3 linked regions of the Homo sapiens genome follow. The protein of the gene in region 1 purifies or fractionates together with the protein of each later gene. This does not show direct contact. Each region holds a gene or a part of one and is shown on either strand. Other genes may lie near its edges.

The links. The genes of interacting proteins can lie anywhere in the genome.
Region 2: the proteins of TM2D3 (region 1) and NR2F2 purify together in Homo sapiens (affinity purification with mass spectrometry; 2 studies listed by BioGRID and IntAct, with this or other methods). This does not show direct contact.
Region 3: the proteins of TM2D3 (region 1) and SPCS2 purify together in Homo sapiens (affinity purification with mass spectrometry; 3 studies listed by BioGRID and IntAct, with this or other methods). This does not show direct contact.

What each region holds. Positions count from the first base shown.
Region 1 is NC_000015.10:101,648,870-101,656,861, reverse strand, and holds the start of TM2D3 (TM2 domain-containing protein 3 isoform a precursor), read left to right. Parts: upstream 1-4,480; 5' UTR 4,481-4,500; coding exon 4,501-4,591; intron 4,592-5,088; coding exon 5,089-5,166; intron 5,167-6,700; coding exon 6,701-6,858; intron 6,859-7,992. Other genes in the region: TARS3 (threonine--tRNA ligase 2, cytoplasmic), read left to right, coding at 2,132-2,280. UniProt on the Homo sapiens protein: Probable positive regulator of Notch signaling.
Region 2 is NC_000015.10:96,333,533-96,341,391, reverse strand, and holds the end of NR2F2 (COUP transcription factor 2), read right to left. Parts: intron 7,628-7,859; exon of another isoform or gene 7,535-7,627; intron 7,317-7,534; coding exon 6,789-7,316; intron 4,045-6,788; coding exon 3,770-4,044; 3' UTR 1,134-3,769; downstream 1-1,133. UniProt on the Homo sapiens protein: Ligand-activated transcription factor. Activated by high concentrations of 9-cis-retinoic acid and all-trans-retinoic acid, but not by dexamethasone, cortisol or progesterone (in vitro). Regulation of the apolipoprotein A-I gene transcription.
Region 3 is NC_000011.10:74,966,099-74,973,957, reverse strand, and holds part of SPCS2 (signal peptidase complex subunit 2), read right to left. Parts: intron 4,394-7,859; coding exon 4,259-4,393; intron 1-4,258. UniProt on the Homo sapiens protein: Component of the signal peptidase complex (SPC) which catalyzes the cleavage of N-terminal signal sequences from nascent proteins as they are translocated into the lumen of the endoplasmic reticulum.

The sequences.
Region 1 (7,992 bases):
ACCAAATAAGAAATATGGTTCAACTACTTGATTATCATGATTTGTCTATTTAATACTTACACAAAAGGAAGAGTCCATAGCATTCCTAGCTTAGCTGTTCCTAGGTACTCTTTGTTGTTTGCTGGAAGAAGAGTTGTAAAGTTTCACCTGAATCCCCTGGGATAGTTTTACTAGCAATAGTTCATATTGCAAGCAAACAACGAAAACAACTCTGAAAATGATCCCATCAGTAGAATTATATACTTTATATTTCAGCCTCACAGGCCTGTAATATTTTCCCTCACTTTTCTGGCTTATTAGGAAACTTTGGGATTAAACTAACAGAAAGAAAAGATCCCAAATTTAAAATGATCTAAAGGAAAAGATTTAGATGAAAAGTAAAATGTCCTTTTAGCATATGACTAATTAGATGCAGAATCTAAAATTTAGGCTTTAAAAATGATTCCAAAATTAAGAGAAACTAACACTGATATAACTGCAGGCACAGTATTGCTATTTCTTGTAAGTTGAGAGTCTGTAGAAGGCGAAATAAATATGCATAGCATTGTTCTATTGACAGTGTTTCAATGATAATGTTTGACACCAGAGTAGGTATTGTGCTGTTTCAGTCAGGCTTCTTATGGTGGCAGAAATCTCAACTTGGTTTAGACAAAGACAGCATTTGTTGGAAGGGTCTTGGAGTATCCCATGACATGAAAGGTAGAATTAAATAGCCAAACCACTAGAAGAGCAATCAGGAGCTCAACCCTCACCAGGAGTATTTCTCCCCATTTCTCGTTCCTGTCTTGCTCTGGTTCTTTATGCTTCTCTTGAATATCTACCTTATTCCACTTATCTGCAGACCGGTTTCTTCCTTCTGTGTGGCAAGAAGCATGGCTGTAGATTCCTGCATCATCTCACAATATGGGTCACTAGAGAGAACAAACTTTTTACCCACATTCCAGAAAGTTCTGGCTGGCTCGCATGGGTCTGGTGTCCACTCCTTGGCTCATCAGGTATGCCAGGTGGAGTCAGCGTGAGCCTGTAAGAGCTCCCCGCTCTCATCTGCACCCTAGTGCCAGGTGGGGTCAGTGTGAGCCTGTAAGAGCTCCCCACTCTCATCTGCACCCTAGTGCCAGGTGGGGTCAGTGTGAGCCTGTAAGAGCTCCCCGCTCTCATTTGCACCCTAGTGCCAGGTGGAGTCACTGTGAGTCTGTAAGAGCTCCCCGCTCTCATTTGCGCCCTAGTGCCAGGTGGAGTCACTGTGAGCCTGTAAGAGCTCCCCGCTCTCATTTGCGCCCTAGTGCCAGGTGGAGTCACTGTGAGTCTGTAAGAGCTCCCCGCTCTCATTTGCGCCCTAGTGCCAGGTGGGGTCAGTGTGAGCCTGTAAGAGCTCCCCGCTCTCATTTGCGCCCTAGTGCCAGGTGGAGTCACTGTGAGCCTGTAAGAGCTCCCCGCTCTCATTTGCGCCCTAGTGCCAGGTGGAGTCACTGTGAGCCTGTAAGAGCTCCCCCCTCTCATTTGCACCCTAGTGCCAGGTGGGGTCAGTGTGAGCCTGTAAGAGCTCCCCCCTCTCATCTGCGCCCTAGTGCCAGGTGGAGTCACTGTGAGCCTGTAAGAGCTCCCCCCTCTCATTTGCACCCTAGTGCCAGGTGGGGTCAGTGTGAGCCTGTAAGAGCTCCCCGCTCTCATTTGCGCCCTAGTGCCAGGTGGAGTCAGTGTGAGCCTGTAAGAGCTCCCCGCTCTCATTTGCACCCTAGTGCCAGGTGGGGTCAGTGTGAGCCTGTAAGAGCTCCCCGCTCTCATTTGCGCCCTAGTGCCAGGTGGGGTCACTGTGAGCCTGTAAGAGCTCCCCGCTCTCATTTGCGCCCTAGTGCCAGGTGCAGTCAGTGTGAGTCTGTAAGAGCTCCCCCCTCTCATCTGCACCCCAGGACCACAAGAGCTGTTCTCTCAGGTGGACAATAGAGAGATGGGATCAGAAGTCATTGCTTCCCTCAAGAAACTTAACTATCAGAGGATGAACCAAATGCTCATTAGATGATATTTAATATTAGTGAAGAAAAACTTGATAAAAACATGTCATGGGACTGCTGACTTAATGTTTGGTAAATTGCTGATTTAAAATACATTTCTTTACCTTTCTTTTCTGCAGTGGTTGGAGAAAAGGAAAAGATAGATAATGCTGTAAACGTGCGAACAAGAGACAACAAAATTCATGGAGAGATTTTAGTAACTTCTGCCATTGATAAACTGAAGAATCTCAGGAAGACACGGACACTCAATGCTGAGGAGGCCTTTTGAAGTCCTTCCCTGATATTTGCTTCTGTGTAACTTTGTTTTGACCCTTAAAAATGTATTTTTCTTAACATGTTAGTACTTCTACGACTTTGGAGCCACTGATGGGTCCACTCATGGCCTCAGCTGAGAAAGGAGACGATGAACGTGTAGCTGACATGCACGAAGTTTAATTTACTCATGTCCACGGGGGACGTTTAGAGGGCACGTGGGAAATTTTCCAGCAATCAATGCCTTGAGAAACTTAAATGGGGAAATATTATTCATCGAGAAAGTGAAACAAAACACTAGGAAATGATTATGAAATGTTAGTGATTTTCAAAAGATGGGCTTCAAATAAAAGTCTGCAGAGTTTTTTTTAAATAGGAGGGAAAATCTTATTTTCTAATATGTCTCAGGTATTTTTATGACTTCTACTAAAATTCACACTGAAACTTTATCTTCTAAACTGGAATCATTACTTAATTTTAACTAACCAACAACCACAAAAGCAGCAGCTACTGCTAAATATTGGATTACTGACAAAGGAATTCAGTTTTGTGGAATCTGGTGTTTGCACTATAGGTTAAGAGTTGCCATTTAAATGTTTCTTATTCATAATTAGGTTTTGTTCCGCTTTAGAAAAAAATAAATTCCCAAATGAATTGCATCAGTGTTTCCAGCGTTTCAGCTGTGGGCTTCTACCACCACTAAGCCGCTCACCTAGAGTTGTTACTTTTTTGATGGGATGACATTCCATGGATTTATGTACTGAAATGGATTTCAGATTTTAAAGAGAGGAATGCTCTACGTGCTCAGAACTGAATTAAAATGGCATTATGTCAATAGAGAATTCAGCTACCAAACAAGAAGTATTGTTTATTTTGCGATATGCTGTGAAATTCAAAAGAAATGTAAGAAATAATCTCTTTTCAATATACTGATCATTTAGTTAACTTCCTGAGGGATGTGAACAGTGAAACAGTTGGCAAACAAAACAATATATATCAGGCTTGTGTAGTAGTATAAGGTGCAGATTGTGTGATATGATTTTTATTATTTATTTTTTGAGACGGAGTCTCGCTCTGTCACCCAGGCTGGAGTGCAGTGGCGCGATCTCGGCTCACTACAACCTCCGCTTCCCGGGTTTAGGCGATTCTCCTGCCTCAGCTTCCCCAGTAGCTGGGACCACAGGCGCGTGCCTCCACGCCTGGCTAATTTTTTTGTATTTTTAGTAGAGACAGGGTTTCACCGTGTTGTTAGCCAGGATGGTTTCGATTTCCTAACCTCGTGATCCGCCCGCCTGGGCCTCCCAAAGTGCTGGGATTACAGACGTGATTCACCGCCCCCGGCCGTGATACGATTTTTAAAGCTAACATTCAGGGCTTATGTGCCGGCACTTTTCCATGTATTTTTTAAAAAGTCATTCAGCAAACATGCACGTGAGGGGGTGGTAGTCAGAAGACCGCGGAATGAACGATCCCGAAGCACGTGGGTGGGAGGAGAGCACCTGTCACCAGCGCTTTCTCCCAGGTGTGCTGTGACAGAAACCGGCAAGGGTCTCCGCAAGCTGGGGCCTGAGCGCGGCTCCCCAGACGGCCGCGACCTTCCCCAGGCAGGGCTGGGCTCTGGACCCTCCCCTCACTTCCCAGCGCCTCGGGCCATCCTGCTTCTCCAGGCCTGAGAGGAACTTTCTGGAAGTGCTGCGTATCTTCAAGAGGCCGGCCAGAAGTGAAAGCCGCGGCAGGCCTGAGCGCCGGCCCCAGGGGAGGGGTCCCTCGGGCCCTCGTCGTCCCGGGGCCGCTTCCCCGACTGTAAATAAGTGTCTTTAGGATGAAACGCCACGCGATAGTGTCCTCGGAACCTTCGCACGAGATCCAGCACACAACATCCGACCACACACTGGGGCGGCCAGCCTCCCGCGTTCGCCCGCCTCTGCTCTTGGTTGCTTCGGGCGCGCATTTCGGTCCACGGATGACCTTTAACAGGTCTCCTGCAGTGGAACCAGGGGTGAGGGCCTCGTCCAAGGGCGTGAGGGGCGCGTGGAAATGGAACAACCTCCCAGGCTCGCATCCTCCTCGGGGACCTCCCAGAAGGCTCAACCGGAAGAAAACCCGCGACCCGCGCGAGGACAGCGAAAGCGCAAACGCCGGCCGCCAGGAGTCGCAGCGCGCCTGCGTCCAGTTCACGCTCCGGCTCCCAGGCGCGCCCCGCCCCCCGGCCCGGAAGTGCGCAGGCGCTGGCAAGATGGCGGGAGGGGTGCTCCCGCTGAGGGGCCTCCGCGCCTTGTGTCGCGTGCTGCTCTTCCTCTCGCAGTTCTGCATTCTGTCGGGCGGTGGTGAGTCAAAGGCTGGGTTCAGCGCCGGGTGGGGCTGAGTGGCAGCAGGGCCCCGGGAGCTGCGAGGAGGCCGGGCCCACGGGCGGACGCTGACGCGGGGAGGAGGCCGAGTGCCGGGCTCCGGGCCGCTTGTCGCTGCATCTGGAGTCTGGCGCCCTGGCCGCCCGGCCCGAGGCCGCCCCTCCGCTCCGGCGACACCGAGCCCGCCATCGCGGCTGCGGAGCCCTGGCACGGAGATGGAGCGCTTGGGGGCTGGGCCGGGGAGGCGGAACTGGAGCGCGATGTCATCCTTCGGTCCCTCGTTGCCGGCTGACCTGAACTGATGTCTACTCTGTTGACGTTTCGTCCCTAAGCTTTGTGTTTTCTGGCTGACCAGCCGTGAGGTTTTCATGAGCAGCTTATTGGCCTGGTGTAGACCCGCCGTGTTAACCACACAAAATAAGGTTTTCTTGTCCCGGGATAACGTGTTTCTCTAATTGTACGATCCTTAAATTTAGAGCAATCGCAGGCGCTGGCTCAGTCAATAAAGGATCCGGGCCCAACACGCACATTCACAGTAGTTCCCAGGGCAGCAGGTACTAGACGTTTTCTATTCTAGTAAATACATGTAGTTATCTCTAGTAGTTTCTCTTTGTTTTTATAAAAATTCCCTTTAGTATACGAAGTCACTTTCCATTTTTGAATATTTATTGTATTTTAGATTATGTGAATTAAGGGTAGATACACAGCCATTTTCAGTAGATAGTCTTCGTATTTATACCTTTTGACGTTTCTGCCTCCTCTCTTTTTCCAATCCCACGCTCATTTGTCACCTTATTTCTATTATTTTTCCACTTCATCCATCAAAATAACCTTCAGTCCGTGCTTCTTTCCCTTCAGCAAATTTCCTCTACTGCTAAAACCCTGTTCCTGATGTTGGAATATTAAAGGCTCCCTCAGGACTGTGGAAATGGAAGGATTACAGCGGGACTGATGGAGACTTGAAATCTAGATCTGGTTTTGCTACTGGGATCTTGAACAAATTATTTATCCTCTTTGGACCTTGGTCCTCATCTTTAAAGCGGTGGGGTTGGTCTGACGACCTAAAGTCATTTCTGCTTTGTGATTCTAAGTGTCCACCTTCCAGCCACATAGTCACGGGATCAAAAAGAGTATTTTGTAGAATTGTTCCTTAATACAGTGAGTAAAGTAGGACCAGTTTTAAACAAGCATTAGTGTGTTTTGCTAGGTGGAGGCTCTGACTATAATTTCATCACTTTAAAGTGACATTACTTCAGTGAATTGAAACTGGCAGAGATATTTTACTGATTCTTATTTGGATGTAAAAAACAGCAGTGCACTTGAATTTTAAACTCAGATTACTTTTTAGAGAAAGCACAAGAGTTCTTAACTCTTGCAGGCTTTTGAAAGCCCTTCTTTTCAGGAATACTTGCAATTTTGATCCTTTCAGTTGGTAAAAATACATTGCACACTCATTAGGTTGGTTGGAAATAAGTTGCAGCTTACTGAAGATGTTATTAAAGTAGAGAACTGTTTTGAACTTTGGTAGCGTAAAACTGTAAATATTATATTAGCAAATGTGGCTTATCGAAGTACCAGTGTGAAATAATGACATTTTAAAGTTGATGCCCTGAGGATGTCAGTGGCTTCATTTCTGAATTAGTGAATTCAGATGAAAAGAACACGGGATTGGAAATGGAGAGATTTGGGTTCTAGTTCCAGTTTTGCCACAGACTTCCTCTGTGATTTTGCAAAACCCTACTGTAAGTTTTTTTTCAACTTACAAAATGATAGTCTTTTTTTTAAGCCCTTAATGTATACCCAGAATTTTCTATACATTATTTGTATATGAGCACCTTTAGTTTTCACGGCCACGTGGGAGGCAGGAATGAAGTAATGTTTTACAAGTGTGGTGCTCACCAGGTCCCACAGCTGGCCGTGGGCAGAATTCTGCTTTAATTGCAGGTGTCTCTGACTCCAGTCCCATGCTTCTTCCCTTCCAGTGCAGTGTCTACTTGCTAATGATCACGTCTCTTAACCTTAGAAGATTGTTCTCTGTTATTCGAATCAGTATTATAGGAGAATAAGCTTCTCTCTTGCCTCTCACAGAAAGTACTGAAATCCCACCTTATGTGATGAAGTGTCCGAGCAATGGTTTGTGTAGCAGGCTTCCTGCAGACTGTATAGACTGCACAACAAATTTCTCCTGTACCTATGGGAAGCCTGTCACTTTTGACTGTGCAGTGAAACCATCTGTTACCTGTGTTGTAAGTACTGCAGCTTACTTATTCTAAATAAATTCATTGTAAACTTTAAGTTAGAAGAACAATTCAGACTTGATTATTGGGAAGAAATTCTGAAGAATTTTTATATTCTTTTATGATTTCCCTTTTGAGTATGTAAGCAGAAATAAATTAAAAAACCCAATAGACCTTTCCATATCAGCTCACTACTGTTTTAGTTATAATGATAACTGTCAAGCCAGTTGATGTCTGCTGGAAATGCACTTGACAGAAATGTTGCTTTGTAGGACTGGAGAAGATCTCAGTCTACTAGCATATCTGAAGCAAGTCTAATTCGTTCAGATGGATTCTGTGTTCTCAATAGTGACAGCTAGTGTACAGAGGGGGTGGCAGTGTCTTTCTGCCATAGATGAGCTTTTGAAGGGCCAGTGCTTATCTGTGGTGAGAAGATGGATTCAGTAAATGCCGGAATGCCTGGTAGCTCTCTAGAACAAAATTAAGTGGAACGCCTGTCTTATCCAGAATAAATTCCAGATAGTCCAAAGATGTAATGTGAAAAATGAAACCCTGAAGTACCACAGAAAACACCAGATAGTTGCTGTTATAATCCCAAAATGGAGAATATTTTTCTAAGTATGAAATAAAGTTTAGAAGCCATAAAATAAAGAATTGATACATTTGACTCCTAAAAATTGGAGATTTCTGCATGACCTAAAAAAAAAAGCATAAAGGCAAAAGACATGGCAAACTAGGAAAAAGCGTTTCTAGAATATGTGACAAATAATACAGTAATATCAGTAATATATAAACACTTCCTAAAACCCACACGGAAAAGATGACAGTCTTGTAGAAAAACAGTGTTAGGACATGAGCAGATGGTTCATAGGAAAGGAAATACAAATAGATATATAACATGAAAAACATATAAGTTTTCTCATAGTATTTAATTAATACATTTTTAACCCTTAGATTGGCAATTTTTTTTTAATTTGATTAACTCTGAGTTTGTGAGAGTATAAGGGTCAGATGCTCATATCTTATTAATAGGTAATCAAATTGATCAACCTCTTGTAGGCGATTTGCCATATCTGTTAAACTTACACATGCACACAATCGTTGAGCTCGTAGTTGTACATGTAGGAATTTATGTTATAGATA
Region 2 (7,859 bases), 5.3 Mb from region 1:
AGGGTTTTCTGCCTGCAGACGGAATGGCCTTTAGCGCCCCCCGCCCTCCTTTTTTTCTTTTTGGTAACCAATGTGTTTTCTATTACCCGGCCCTGCCGAGCCTGGCAGCCCGGCGCTCGCGGTGCAGTGGGAGACGCCATGTTGGCTCAGCTCATAGGACCAAGTCAAAAGCGAGATTCGAGGCAGAGTTTCACACGCTCGAGCTCCCCCTGACCGCCCCCCGCCCCCGCCCTCGCCCCCCCCGCCTGTCGCCGCTTAATGCACATCCCAGGAGTGCAGCTCCGCGCGCCCGGCACCCCGGACTTTCCCGGGGCGCTGGCGGAATTCTGCCGCACGTAAGTGGGGGCGGGGGCTGGGGGGCAGGCACTTTCCCGTAGCAGCTGCCAACTCCAGGCCCCCGTCCCTGCAGCCGGCTAGAGGCTAAGCCTCGGACGTCGCCCGCTAACTTTGAGCCCCAGCTCCTCGCGGCCCAGGGAGAGCTAATGGTGAAAGGCCGAGGCAGGGCGACCGCGAGCCGAGCGAGCAGGCTGGAATCCCCCCCGGGCTCAATCTTCCCCCAGGTTTGTTTGAAAGTGGCGAGAAGCAGCGAGCGCCCCTCTCTCTCCTTGCACTATTGTTGCATTTCGCGTCTAACTGGGTTCTCTCACACCCCCGAGCGCCACGAGGAGGAGGGGGAGCGGGGTTGGGAAAAGAAATAAAGCGAGCTCAGATCAGATGAAAAAAAAAAAAAAAAAAAAACCCAGCAAGGAAAAAGAGACACTTAAAGGGAAAGAGTCGCCATGTTTAGCAGCTTTTTTAAAGATCTCGTCAATTTCACACAGAACGCGCTCGCTGGGTCCCAGCCCTCGTCTTTTGTCCAATTCAGTCGCAGCAAAGATCTTTTGTTCTAACTCAGCGTGAAAAGAAAAACTTTCTTTAAATGCAATAAACTTAAACCGAACTCAAGACTCTAAACAGATCCTCCTCCGGCCACTCTAAACATATACAAGGGGGTTTGTTTTAACCGGTTGAAAAATTTTGGGTCCTGTTTTTCTGCCTCGCAGACCCCAAGCTCATTGCTTAAACTTAAGAGTGCGAGAGAGATTTCCAACGTCTAGAACACATGCTTAAAGCATAATAAAACAGGGATTGTCTTTTGCTTTGAAAATCATAAATTATAATTTAATGCCAATAATAATTTACAACAAATGGCTGTTTACAATAAACTAACACAAAACAAACAAGGAAAAGGGCCTGTGTTTTACTTATTAGAGAAACTTCACACACTCACATGGATAGCACTTGCAAGAGGAAGAAAATCAACAACAACCGACAAAACCTCGAACTAAAGGTCAGCAATACTGTGCCGTAAGAACATACTTGTATTTATATATGTATATATCTACAGAAATAAGTGAGAGTCAGATGGAGAACTCTGCACAAATCAGATTTTACTGGTCTGCATGTATTGACTGGATCTGAATATTAACGTTTAATACACTTTACAAAATTATCCCTGTTCTTTCACCTCCCTCACTAGTCCTCCCCCCCCCCCACCAATTAGAATTAAACCACAACATGATGAAGTACTGGCGGTGGGGGGGTGGGTTGGAAACCTTGAATAAGAACAAAATTGCAAGCTCCCAGCACCGAGCTTCCTCCAAACCAGGAAAAGAGAAAGAGGAAAAATGAAAAAAAGACTCCAAAAGAAATAGTTACTACTTCCAAATCAGCACACCCTGTAAAGTTTCCCTCCTTCCTTCTTTCTTTTTCTCTGTCCTGCTTTCTCTTCCTTAATTTGGCTTCTAAGGACAAAGGATCCCAAGAGCAGTACAGATTGTAGCCACACAATCTGAAATGTCAAAATGTCGATGTGTTTTTATGTACATAACTCCAATGGAAAAGATTCCCTTGACCCTGTGGTCATGCTCTCACAGACTGAAGGTAAAGGGGGGGAGGGGAGAGGGAAACCAACTGCAAGTTATCATATATACATTAAAAGTAGACCTTTCAGTCTTAGAACCTGTATCACTGAATTTGAAACTCTCTCAACAACCACGCTAGAGTAGAATCACAGAATATTTTAAAAAATCGTACCTACTTAAGGAAAAACTCACTGCAAACAACTGTCCTCTAGTTACAATGCTGTGATTAGCTTGCTTGAACGATCTTCTGAGTAACTGTCAGAAATGTACAAAAGAGTATTTTTTTCTGATCATAAAATAGATACTGATCTCAAGATTTCTAATACTTTTTCACAATACCTTCCCTAAGCAGGCACTTAAGTGTGACAAATATAAGGGCCTTTTTTTTTTTCCTGGAAAATCCATTTTTAATTAAAAGGAGGATTAGGTGAATGGGGGTGGTTTACTATATCAGTATGGCACTTCCTAAACCATAGATAAACCATTAACTTCAGCTCCCCCCCCAACACACACACACCCAAATTAAACAGGCAAATACAGTAGTCCACCTTTGAACAAACTGACTGAGGGGAGTAAACAAATGCCCCCCCCCACCACCCCCCGCCCGGCCAGCTAAGCGAGAGCTCACAGGGGCTCTTCTAGATGTAAAGACAGTGAGTGGGGACAGCCAGGTTTCAGATATCAAATAATATTTTAATTTCTGAATACTTTCAATTTTCCTTGGAATATAACACACAAAGACTCGACCAAACAGTTCAGTTATTATAACTTTTACAGTATACAGAAATGTTGCACTTAAAAAAAAAACCTTCAGTTTTTTTAAAACACAAACTGTAAACTCTAAGATACTGAATCAATCACGTTACCTATAAGTGCCAACAGTGTTATTTTTGTCATGCTGATTTCAATGGTATTTTTTAAAAAGGGAAAATATCAACAATTATAATACAAAGGGTTTGCAAATATACAAACAGATATAGGATTTTCATAACAATTCAAGAACTAAGCGGGACCCAATTCAAATTACAAAAGTTCACTTTTTATTCAAAACCTCAGCATGTGTCTTGGACACATTCCTTGGCTGCCAATAAATTCCACAGTTCATTCTCTTTCTTAAAATATTTTTTAAAAGCTAGGTTTGTCATGGTTTCTTTTGGGGAGGGGCAGGGTAGGGGAAGTTAAGTGTTATATGTGGTTCCTCCAGTTCTCTAATTAGAGTGCTCGACTTCACCTAAAAATTTTGGTCACCACTTGTAAGTGCGTTTCCATCATCTTTGAGTTGCCTTTTAAAGTTTTATGTCTTCCTATGGTATTTTCATGGACTCAGTTTTAATTCTTGCAGAACATATATTTTAATGATACACAGTTTTTAAGAAGCCAAGATTATATCAAAACTTATTATAGAACCACAGAATAAACTGGTTTGGAACCAGAAAAGTACAAAAAAGAACAGCTAGAGGTACATAGACACAGGACAATTAATAATTTGGAAAAAAAAAAGACTTACTTTCTCCATTCTGCTAATTGTCTCCCAATCTCCTTAAATGCACTTTTAGCAATATTTTTCAAAAATTTACCAAAAAAAGAAAAAGACTAATTTCCTTTTTATACAAAAATGATAAGTAGCAAGTTGTTCTGACCGACACAGGAGTTTTTTTTTTTTTTTAATGCATTCTGTAAAAGTTCATTTGACAGTCTTTTTTTTTTTTTTTGAAATTCACAGTCCATTAAATTCTTCCCCTCTCTTCTTTTAGCAAACTTGTAACATCCTTTTATATCCTTTCTTAACAGAAGGAAATTAAGCAAACAAACCAGTCTTTTGCCTTTTCTTTCTCTGTTTCACTCCCCCTTCTTATTTTATTTATTTATTGAATTGCCATATACGGCCAGTTAAAACTGCTGCCGGACAGTAACATATCCCGGATGAGGGTTTCGATGGGGGTTTTACCTACCAAACGGACGAAAAACAATTGCTCTATGACTGAGGAGGAGACGGTGCGGAGGGAAGGGAGGCGAAGCAAAAGCTTTCCGAATCTCGTCGGCTGGTTGGGGTACTGGCTCCTAACGTATTCTTCCAAAGCACACTGAGACTTTTCCTGCAAGCTTTCCACATGGGCTACATCAGAGAGACCACAGGCATCTGGAAGAAAGTTTAAAAACAGAAGAAGAAGAAGAAGAAAAAGAAGAAGAAGAAGAAGAAGAAGAATTCAGTCATCAGATTAAGAGGTTTGAATTGGGTCACATGAGGTGTGTGCACAGAGCTCTGTCAAACTGCCCCAACCGGAGTTGGAGCAAATGTCTATGTACTGAAAACTTAAGGGGGGGAGGCGGGGTGGGGGAAGAAAGAGCAAGAGATGGTCCTGAGGAAGTGTTTGCTTTAAAATAAAACATAGCTCAGTGTGCTACAGGCTTTCACTGCCCGAGTCCTTAGCCTGGGTCATTGAGAGGCCCAAGCAAAAGTGCATTGGGTCTGTCTGGCCCAAGTCAGTAAACAGAAGAAACCAAAACTACCAGCACTCTCTCCCCTCCTCCTCTGTAAATAATAGTTTGGCTTATAATTATATAGGGGTTGGGGGTTGGGGGTGGACAACCTGGCCCAGTCCCGAGTAATGGCGTCCACGATCCAGCCTCAGATTCCCCCCAAAGAGGGCGACTCATTTTTCTCCAGTCTTTGAAACTGATTTAAGTGGCCCTTTAAAACTGATCTTGTCAGTTTAGCCTATTGAAGGGCAGCCATGCAAACCGTGATCTCTCTGTTCATTTGAGCTGTTTCTTTTCCCCCTTTTTCTTCTCTCTCCCTTTTTCTCCTACCCCCCTTTATTTTTTAAAACCCAGGTCCCTCCGAGAAGCATCCCCCCTCCCTGTTATCTTCAGGAAAACACTTTTCTTTTTTGATACGTGAAAATACAGTAAGTGCCTTTGAAATGAGAAGCTTCTTGGTAAAGGCGGTTCAGGTTGTGACCTGACCTTTCAGGGCTCCCCATACAAGACTGGGGTTAACATATGCATATTGTGAGTCATTAAAACAGATATTCGAAAATCTCCACCACCACCTCCACCCCAAGAACCAGAACACACATGCAACCTCCTCATATGTATATCTAGGACTCTGCATGTCTACAGAATGTAGAGGTGTCTGTGGACAGGAACTAAAAGATCTGTTTGCACAGGACTCCTTCCCTCGGCATCCTCGGAACTGTGTGTCTCCCTCTGAATCAGATAACAGGAACCTTTATCTCTTTGTGAGGCGATTTGCATTCTCCACACAGGCCTCCACATTTTGCAAATAGTCATAAATTAAACTGTTAACGACAGTATCAGGCATTTTTTTTTCCTTGAAAGACCAAGGGTAAGGCTAAGAGCTAGCAATGATACCAAGAAATTAACGACTACCTCCATCGTCCAAGAAGGTGGGCTGGGTGTTGGGTTGTGGGACAGGGGTGAAGGTGGCTATGAGGTAGGGAGATATCTTGTCTGTATATCTGCAGCAGGCAAACGTTCTAGGTATGAGGGGCACTCGAGAAAAATAATCCCTATCCAAACCTCTGCAAACAGCTTCCCTGCCCAGACACTGGCCTTTAATTGATTACCTAAGGACTTCCAAAGGCAGAATTTGGGGTGGCTGTGCTGGGAGGTTTTATGTGGAAAGCAGCAATGTACAAGACAGCAGTTTGAGGACTAAGAAGCTGCAAGCTGTTCAGCTAATGACTTAGTTCCCCAGACTTCTTTCGAACAATAAGGAAGAGATTGTGGACCTCCTTTATGTTTGCCACATAAACTACACATCTCTCCTCGTTTCCTGTTAACAAGCTTAAAAAATTGTAGTGGGTGACTAGGTTCCAAGCCCTGCTAACGTCCAGATGTTTGTTATTCTTAATCGGGAACCCCTTTCCCCTCTCAGCCATGACAAAAGGATCAGCTGACAACTTAGTACAAGAATGTGAAAGGGGGTTGGTGATTTCCATCCACCTGGGCTATGCTGAACTCAGCCTGGAGGCAGCCAAAAAGCTCAGGTGTGGCCCAAAATGGAAAGCCAGACACCTTCAAAAATCATTTTGCCTCAAGTTAATTAGTATCAGCTCTATTACTCACACAGGTTAAACTACATGCAAACTAATTAGATTGCATAATGCAGTCAATGATGGTTTTATATCTCTAGCAACATCCATATCCAGCCCAAGTTGGCATACACTTTGGGTTGTTTGAAAATTGCCTTAAGTGTTTGCTTGGGCAGGGGAAGCAAGAGGCCAGAGTCTTCAACCTCCTGCAGACATTCTGAAGAGTTATGACGGTCCCTTTCCTCCTGTTGCCCCATCCTGACACATCTTTTCGCCTCTCCTGGCAGTCTGCATTATTCCAGTAAGAATATGATTTTGAAAATTGCTGCCCTCAGGTTGGATTTGCCTGGAGCTCCAACTCCTATTGAGTTAGCAGGCAAACTTTTCCCTGCAGAGACAATGTCAGGGCTGCTCCACTGCCCAGGGCATCTCCTGGAGGCCCAGCCAGGGCGCTAGAGAAAACCGAGGGCTTGAGGAGATTCCCTGGGGCCCAGCAGGCCCGGGGGGCCTGGGCTCAGGAAAGGGAGCAGGAGAGGGCATCCCAATCTGGATACTGCAGGTGGGGGAAACAGGCAGCAGAGGCTGCCCTATGGCCCATGTGGGGAATCTATCTGAAGCATCCTTCCTGCAATCCAGCCTTCCTCTCCTCTCCCCAGGACAGGCCTGGTAGTGCCCAGCAGCTATAAAAAGTTCCCACTTTAAGTTGCACTCAACAGTTTGGCCTTTCAAGGAGCAGACTGGGTTTGCCCTGGGGACTCCCAAGTTCTCTGGGCCCCAGCTCTGGGCTAGGAGCCCGTGGGCACGAGAAGACAGGGCTCCTTCCTACCTGAGGTGAACAGGACTATGGCCTTGAGGCAGCTGTACTCGGCTGAGTCAACGTGCAGCGCCTTGAGCTTCTCCACTTGCTCTTGGAAGATCCGTATGTGGTCCATAAAGGCGACCACCCGGTCGGCGGACATGGGCGAAGCATGCAGGCCGGCGGCGGCCAGGAGCGGGGCGACGTGGAGGGGCATGGAGCACTGCGCCGCATTCAACACAAACAGCTCGCTCCAGGTGAGGCGAAGCAGGGCCACCTGGTCCGTGATCTGCAGGTCGGGGAAGAAGGGGATGTTCCGGGCCCACTCGACGGCGCTGAAGAGCATCCTCGCGGCCAGTTCGCAAATGTTCTCGATACCCATGATGTTGTTGGGCTGCATGCATTGGCTGCCGAAGCGCGACGTGGGATAGGGCTCCGCGCGCAACAGCAGGGAAATATATCCGGACAGGTACGAGTGGCAGTTGAGGGGATCCCCGTTGGTCAGCGCGAACTGCCCGTGGGTCGGCTGGGTCGGCGGCATCCTGCCCCTCTGCACCGCTGCGGGGAGGAAAGGAGACACTCCACAGTTAATGACCAGCCTCAGTCCCCAGGTTCCCCGGCGGGGTCTGCCCCAGCCCGACCCCCACCTGACCCAGGCCCTGAGCAGCGCAAGAACCAGGCAGGCCTGCCACAGAGCTGGAGTCGCCAGGCTCTTGGCACCATTCCTTTCAAACCACCACCCAGGCGAGCTCTGAGGGCCAGAGGGGCACACTTGCCTCCGAGGCCCGCTCGGGGCTGGTCCGCCGAGGACCCAGAATTGGCCACCTTGCCTCGGGGTCCCCGGCGCTGTGGGCGGGATGTAGCATTCTGAGGGCATCTTTCTTCTTTACTGCTAAACAGCTGATATTTCTTATTGATTGGAGGAGAGGGAGCGGGAGGGGCGAGTCTGGGGGGAGGGTGAGGCGCTTTTGCAAAAGGCACGAGGGTCCACCCCAGACGGCCTGTGGCCACTCCGGAACGACTCTCCCACAAACCCCGAAGCCCCAGCCCCAGCCCGGCGGGGAACCCCCCCAGTGAGAGACAAGCAGAGAGCGGAGGTCT
Region 3 (7,859 bases), on another chromosome or scaffold:
TTTTTTCAGTTGGGAGAAATTACAGTATATTTGTATGTCAGAAGGAATGATCCAGCAGAGAGGAAAACATCAAGTAAGAGAGAAGAGATAGAATCCCATAGACCCAAGGGAGGGAAGGCCTTAGATAGGTACTTGGAAGTAGGTGAGTAGTGATGGTAGACTTATGATGGCTTCTATCTTCCCAACAACAAAAAACCGAGAGTAAAGATGGGGGAGGAGGCCTAGCAGGTTTGAGGACAGGGAAGATATGAAAGATCCTCCAGGACAGGGAGAGAGTAACTGGACTACAGAAGTGTCATGGAATCTAAGCCAGGTAAGGAGGAAGTGAAGTGGGTTACAGATGCCACTGGGGCAGAAGAAATGCCGTGACAAGAGAACTAGAAGGAAATAAATGAGAGTAACAGGAAGCAATGGTCAGGGTGGGATACTTAAAACTGAAATTATTGCAGGTAATTTGTTCTTATTAATTGCAAGGTCTACTAGGGTATGTCTATGAAAATAAATGTTTAAGGCATGATAGAAAACAGGATAATGGGAAGAAAGGAAGTAAAACTGAGAGGCCAAGTTACTAGAATAACCATCTATGTGAATATGGCAATCACCAAGACTTAAGAAAGGACAAATGTTAGAGAGAGTGCCAATGAGCCAGGAATTATCTTCAAAAGACTAGGTGTGTGTTTAACCGCAAAGAAGAGGCATAGAAGTGGCACAATGTGATGACATGCATTCAAAGGGGGGATTTTAGGGAAGAGGACGCATTGGAAGCTGCAAAGGAGAGACCCATCTCTACCTGTAGTACCGGAGTAATGAAGGCTGTGAGAGAAACATCAGCCACCACTTGCAGTCTGCAGTGGAAATATGTCCTCAGAGGTTATGGTCAGGTTTCACTTAGGGTAAGAAAGAGAAGGGATGTTCCCCTTCCTGTGTCCATGTGATCTCATTGTTCAATTCCCACCTATGAGTGAGAATATGCGATGTTTGGTTTTTTGTTCTTGCGGTAGTTTACTGAGAATGATATATCCCTTGGGGAAAATATTGCCTAAGTATGCAGGAAAAAAAAAAATATATATATATATATAAAACATTAATAAGAGAGATTAGATTGATTTATAGCTATGCTATAAATGAAATGAGATAGATTTTATATTGTCTTATAACCTTATATGGTAAATGTTCATATTACAAAGTTAAATAAAAGTTTCAGTGGATCCAATTTGTTGTTTAAAAAAAAAAAAAAGAGAAGGGAATGTTCATAGAGATGGCTAGGTTATAGGGGACTTTGTGGATGGCTGACAATGACTGGGCTGCAGGCAAAGACTAATTAGGAGGTCAAGGCTGCAGCCCAGCCCAGATGAATGTCAATCATTCACATAACAAAACATGCCACGCCAGGCCCTGGGCTGGGTCTGGTTACCAAGGGGTGAGTGAGAAAGTCCCACCTGGGCTTAGGTTTCTACTGTATAGTGAATGGTAAAGGAGCTCACACTTTGGAGGAGGGGGCGGGCCCAGGAGGAGACACAGATATTAAATAATTATAGCTCCATGTGGTAACTAACAGAGGTAAGCATAAATGCTTTTAAGAATAACTAGGATGGGCTGGGCGTGGTGGCTCACACCTGTAATCCCACCACTTTGGGAGGCCAAGGCTAGGCGATCACTTGAGGTCACGAGTTCAAGTCCAGCCTGGCCAACATGGTGAAACCCCATCTCTACAAAAAATACAAAAATTAGCCGGGTGTGGTCGTGGGTCCGTAATCCCAGCTACTCAGGAGGCTGAGGCAGGAGAATCACTTGAAGCCGGATGAGGAGGTTGCAGTGAGCCAAGATCGCGTCATTGCGCTCCAGCCTGGGTGACAAGAGTGAAACTCCATCTCAAAAAAAAAAAGAATAACTAGGACCACCTAATTTAGACTAAGGCATGTTAAGGAAGACTAAGGTATGTCAGGGAAGGCTTCTTGGAAGTAGGAGTGAGCCAGGTTACAGAAAGATAGCTAAGCCAGAGAGAAGAATATGTTTAAAGGTACGGGGTCACTGGAAACTTGGATAACTTAGCATATTGCAAATTCCATAATATTGCCAGAGTAAGAGAATGTATTTTGAGAGGGGCATAAAAGAAAGCTGGAGATGTCACTAGGGGATGAATGCTGTAATACTTCATATGCTGAAGGAGTTTAGACTGTATAATGAATTTGCTGGGGAGTGACAAAATCACTTTTTGCGAGAGAGTCACATAGCTTGTGTTGTCTGCACGTGGCAACTAGTAGTCTGTGAAACCTTTCATTGCCATTTTCACATCACATGACCTGGCAGTGGGAATAAGACATCAGAATCAGCCACTGTTAAGCTACTAAATCAGTCGGTGAGGTGGGGGAGGGAGAAGACATCAGCAGAAAGCCGGGAAGAGAGCAAGAACATTCACATTCCACTCCACCAACAATACGGCAGTTGGTAAAAATCAGCAGGAAACGTGAAAAAAATCAGAACCCTTGTACACTGCTAGTGAGATTGTAAAATAGGGCAGCCACTTTGGACAACAGTCTGGCAGTTCATCAAACAAAGAGAGTTAGCATACCATACAAGTCTTCTCCCAGGTGTATTACCCAAGAGAAATGAAAACATGTCTACCTAAAAACATGTACACAAATATGTATAGCAACATTATTCATAATAGCCAAAAAGTAGAAACAACCCAAATGTCTGTCAACAAATGGATAAACAAAATGGAATGTTACTTGACCATAGAAAGGAATGAAGTACTGATACATGCTACAACATGAACGAACCTTGTGTGCAGTATACATAGGAAGTAATTGCACTAAGTGAAAGAACCCAGTTATAAAAGACCACATATTGTATGATTCCATTCATATGAAATGTCCATAAAAGAGAACAGAGAAAGTAGACTGGTGGTTGCCCAGGGCTCAGGCAAGTGGGAGGATAGGGAAGTGATTAGCTAGAGTACAGAGGTTTTTTTTTTGAGGTGATGAAAATGCTCTAAAATTGACTGTGATAATGGTTGCAAATATCTGTAAATACTACTAGGTACTTTTGAACTGTACACTTTAAATGGGTGAACTGTATGTATGGTAGGTGAATTATATAAAAGTTCTTAAAAAATACAAAAGTCAGAATAAAAATAATGAAATTATAATGCCGCTAGGTTTTAGAATTCTGCAACTCAGCTTCAGTGGCCTGGTAGAGGATGCAGATTATGATGGCTGAGGCCAAAGGGCAGCTAGAAGCCCTGTCAGGAGATAAGCAAGAACTCAGCTGCAACAACAGAATGAAGGTCTGCTTCCCTTTCTCATAGGCGCTTCTACAAGTTGGCAATGAGACAGTCTGTATGGCACAGATGCTACACTTAACTTCATATATAAATAATTGTACCTATAATTTGTGCGGCTATTATGCACCAGTTAAGTATAATAGGTTTTTAAGATAGTGACTACGAGTATGAATTCTGGTTTCAAACTTGGGCTGGAATTCCTGCTCTACCACTTTTGGGCTATATGATACTGGAAGAGTTGATTTAAACTTTGGGCCTGTATTCTTATCTATAAAATGAGTGTTCTAAAACTTAATGAGATAATGCATTTAGCAGAATACCCAACATACAGTAAATGTTCAATAAACATTTGCTATTATTATAATTGGTATTTCATCTTCCCAGAAACTCTAGGCATCATTTTTGACCCCACTAAACCTCAGATAATTTATATGATTTACCCAAAGTTATACAGCTAGAAAGAAACTGAATTGGAACATGAACCTAGTTCTTGGTACCTACAAAACACATGTGTGTCAGCTGCACAAAGTTATACCTGACACTGGTCAGAAACAGACTCTAGATTGTGCTTTTTTTGAGTTGCCCAGTGCACTGCTCCAGATATTCTTGATTGTATTCGTGGAGAGAAGACAGGATCATAGAAGACACAGAAGCTAATGGAATTCTTCAAAGATAACTGATCTCACATCTTTGGCCTTTATACTTTTGTATGCTTAATCGTCTCTGTTAACTGGCCACAGGAAAAAGTACCTTCTCCCACAGTTTATCCTCAGAGCATTTCTGTGATAACGCAATCTCAGAACTATAGGGCTAGGACAAACCTTCTAGATCATCCATACTCCTTTCTTCATTTTATATGACTAGCCCTATGATCCACATAGAGTAGGCACATAATAAGTCTTCTGTTGATAATGACAACATGCCAGGGCAAATCCAACACCAGGATTTAAAAATCTGTGAGGATAGTCATACCTTTTAAGACTGGAGGACAGCTGCCAAATATCATCAGGATCCATTCCTGTAGGATCTTTCCTGTGGGCCACGAGAAAGATGCTCTTCTCCTTATATGAGGTATAAATGGTCAGAATCCCCATCATCACAAAATAGGTTCAAATAAAGTTAAGGGGAAAATACCCAAACATAAAAGAGAAGTAACACAAATTGACAAGCAACAGATATAAAAACTTTCATAATGATAGTCCTAAAGAAGACAGCTTTGTCTTGCTGCCAAAACACTGAAAATTTAGCTATTTCATTTTCATCCTTATGTTTATATACCAAGAGAAGCAAGGCTCTCTCTGGTTAATTCTGCAAACACCTCAGAAAGGAAGAAAAGAAAAAGATACAGAGCATAAACTAGCTCTCATCTTTATGTTCAAAGACAACATGTATAATAAGATACCTAGTTTGTCAAGACTTTGTTATAATAGTGCTTATTTCTTTATAAAAAACAACGAATAGTCCCAGTGGACTTGACCATGTTCAACTGATTTTAAGGGTTATTAAGAGAAGAAAAGTGACCCAAATAGTTTACTATAAGAGAGTATGTCAAATAGTACTACGATTACTTCCTATATGCATATAGACTTATTATTATATTGTTTTTGACAGTATTAAGTACCATAGTTAATAAGCACTTATAGTTTGCCAAAAACTGGCATAAGAGCTTTGTGTATACTGTGCCATTTAAATTTCATAAACAAGGCTGGGCACGATGGCTCACACCTTTAATACCAGCACTCTGGGAGGCCGAGGCAGGTGGATTGCTTGAGACCTGGAGTTTGAAACCAGCCTGGCCAACAAGGAACAATGGGAGACCCCATTTCTACTAAAAATACAAAAATTAAGGCTAGGCGTGGTGGCTCACACCTGTAATCCCAGCACTTTGGGAGGCTGAGGTGGGCAGATCACTTGAGGTCAGGAGTTCGAGATGAGCCTGGCCAACATGGTGAAACCCCATGTCTCTACCAAAAATACAAAAATTAGCTGGGCATGGTGGTACATGCCTGTAGTCCTGCTACTCAGGAGGCTGAGGCATGAGAATGGCTTGAACCCAGGAAGCAGAGGTTGCAGGGTTGCAGTGAGCCGAGATCGTGCCACTGTGCTCCAGCCTGTGTGACACAGCAAGACTCTGTCTCAAAAAAAAAAAAAAACAAAAAAAACCCACAAAAACCAAAAAAAAATTAGCTGGATGTAGTGGTGCAGGCCCGTAATCCCAGCTACTTGTGTGGCTGAGGCAGGAGAATCACTTGAACCTGGGAGGCAGAGGCTATAGTGAGGCAAGATCGTGCCACTGCACTCCAGCCTGGGCAACAGAGTGAGACCCTGTATCAAAAAATAAAAATAAAATAAATAAAATAAAAATAAATTTCATGAACAGTGCTCGCTTCGGCAGCACATATACTAAAATTAGAACGATACAGAGGTTAGCATGGCCCTAGCACAAGGATGACAGGCAAATTCATGAAGCATTCCATTAAAGAAGAGTTAAAAAATAGATAAATTTCATGAACAGGAAAGGCAGGAAAATATAGTACAAAGTATATGGACTTTAGAGTAGAGATAATCCTAGATTTAAATCTTGGCCTTTAATCAGTATGATTGTAACAAATAACTTCCTTCCCCAAGTCTTAGTATCCTTACCTTTAAAATTGGGATAATACTGATGTTTTAGAATTATCATGAGATTTAGAGATGAAGGATATATGCAGTCTAGGATACAGAAGACTTTTTTTTTTGAGACAGGGTCTCACTCTGTCACCCAGGCTAGAGTACAGTGGCATGATCTCAGCTCACTGCAGCCTCAACATCCCAGGCTCAAGCAATCCTCCCATCTCAGCTTCCTCAGTAGCTGGGATTATAGGTGTGTGCCACTACACCCAGCTAATTTATTTTTTATTTTATCTAATTAATTTATTTATTTTGAGACAGAGTCTTGCTCTATCGCCCAGGCTGGAGTGCAGTAGCAGATCTCGGCTCACTGTGACTTCCGCCCCCTGGATTCAAGTGATTCTTGTGCCTCAGCCTCCCAACTATCTGGGACTACAGGCATGCGCCACCATGCCCAGCTAATTTTTGTATTTTTAGTAGTGACAGATTTCTCCAAGTTGCTCAGGCTGGCCTTGAACTCTTGGGCTCAAGTGATTCGCCCGCCTTGGCCTCTCAAAGTGTTGGGATTACAGGCATGAGCCACGATGCCCAGCAACAGAAGACATTTATAATGGTAGTCCCTACATTATAAATAAAACTGACATGACAAAAATAAGACCTTGTTTTATTAAACAAATATAACCAAACAAATGAATTACCATCAAGGTAGTTCTCTTGGGAGGCCAGATATTTGTAATAATGTTGCTATCATTTTCAAATCTCTTTGGAATTCCCCTGGGAACTGTCTCTAGAACCTATGGAATATTATTCTTCTGAACTGCCTTAATAGTGAAAAATTCATACTGGGATGATTAATCTGATTACTGAAAGGAGTCAAGGATCACCTGGTGCCACTTCTGGGGGAAATGTGGGGCAATCTGGATAATACAATTTTTGACTAGGATCTGCTTTATCAGAGGTTTGCTAACTGCCTCTGAAGATAAATCCCCAACATGAAGTTTTAAAACATATTTCAGGTTGGCTGGGCACAGTGGCTTATGCCTGTAATCCCAGCACTTTGGGAGGATTGCTTGGGCCCAGGAGTTTTGAGACCAGCCTAGGCAACGTAGTAGGACCTTGTCTCTGTAAAAAATTTAAAAATTAGGCAGACATGGTGGCATGTGCCCGTCTACTCAGGAGGTTGAGGTGGGAGAATTGCTCGAGCCAGGAGGCTGACGCTGCAGTGAGTCATGATCACACCACTGTACTTCAGCCTGGGTGACACGGTAAGACCCTGTCTCAAAAAAAAGAAAACAAAACAAAATTTAGGTAGTGGTAACATTGTTTAAAAAAGTAAACTACCAACCAAAATTACCTATTTTAATAGTGAAGTATAATTAAGTTCTTTATATTCAACTTCTTGAGAAAAAAAATCACGCTGGGTAGGCAACGACCATGATCTTACATTTATCATAAAAAAGAGGGGAAAGGAAATGATTATGTATCAAATACAATATAAAATCTCTCATTTAATCTTTATGATAATTCTGAATGCTACCCATATTTATAAATGAGTGGTATTCAAATCATCTCAAAAATAAGTAAATTTTCATTAGCACAAGATCACAGATACCTTGGATTTCAAACCCATATTCTCTAGCTCCAGAATAAGTTCTTAATTCCACTGTAATACAAGCCACACTTGTATCTCATGCTCAGTACTTTCCAGTTCAGCTCCTCAGCTTCAAGTAAACTTAATACAGATCTGAGTCTCCAAAATCAGATCCTTTCCTAATATCCTAGAATGAGTGGCTTGAAGCAGCCACGTCTAACGGGAAAAGTTCTGGGCTAGAAATGAGAAGAGCTGGGTTCACTATTACTATGTGTTTTGCTATTAAGTGCTCATATTAGGACAATAACCTCTACATTAATAACAAAAATGAATTACGATAAAATAACCATACAAAACATAAAATATCAGTGA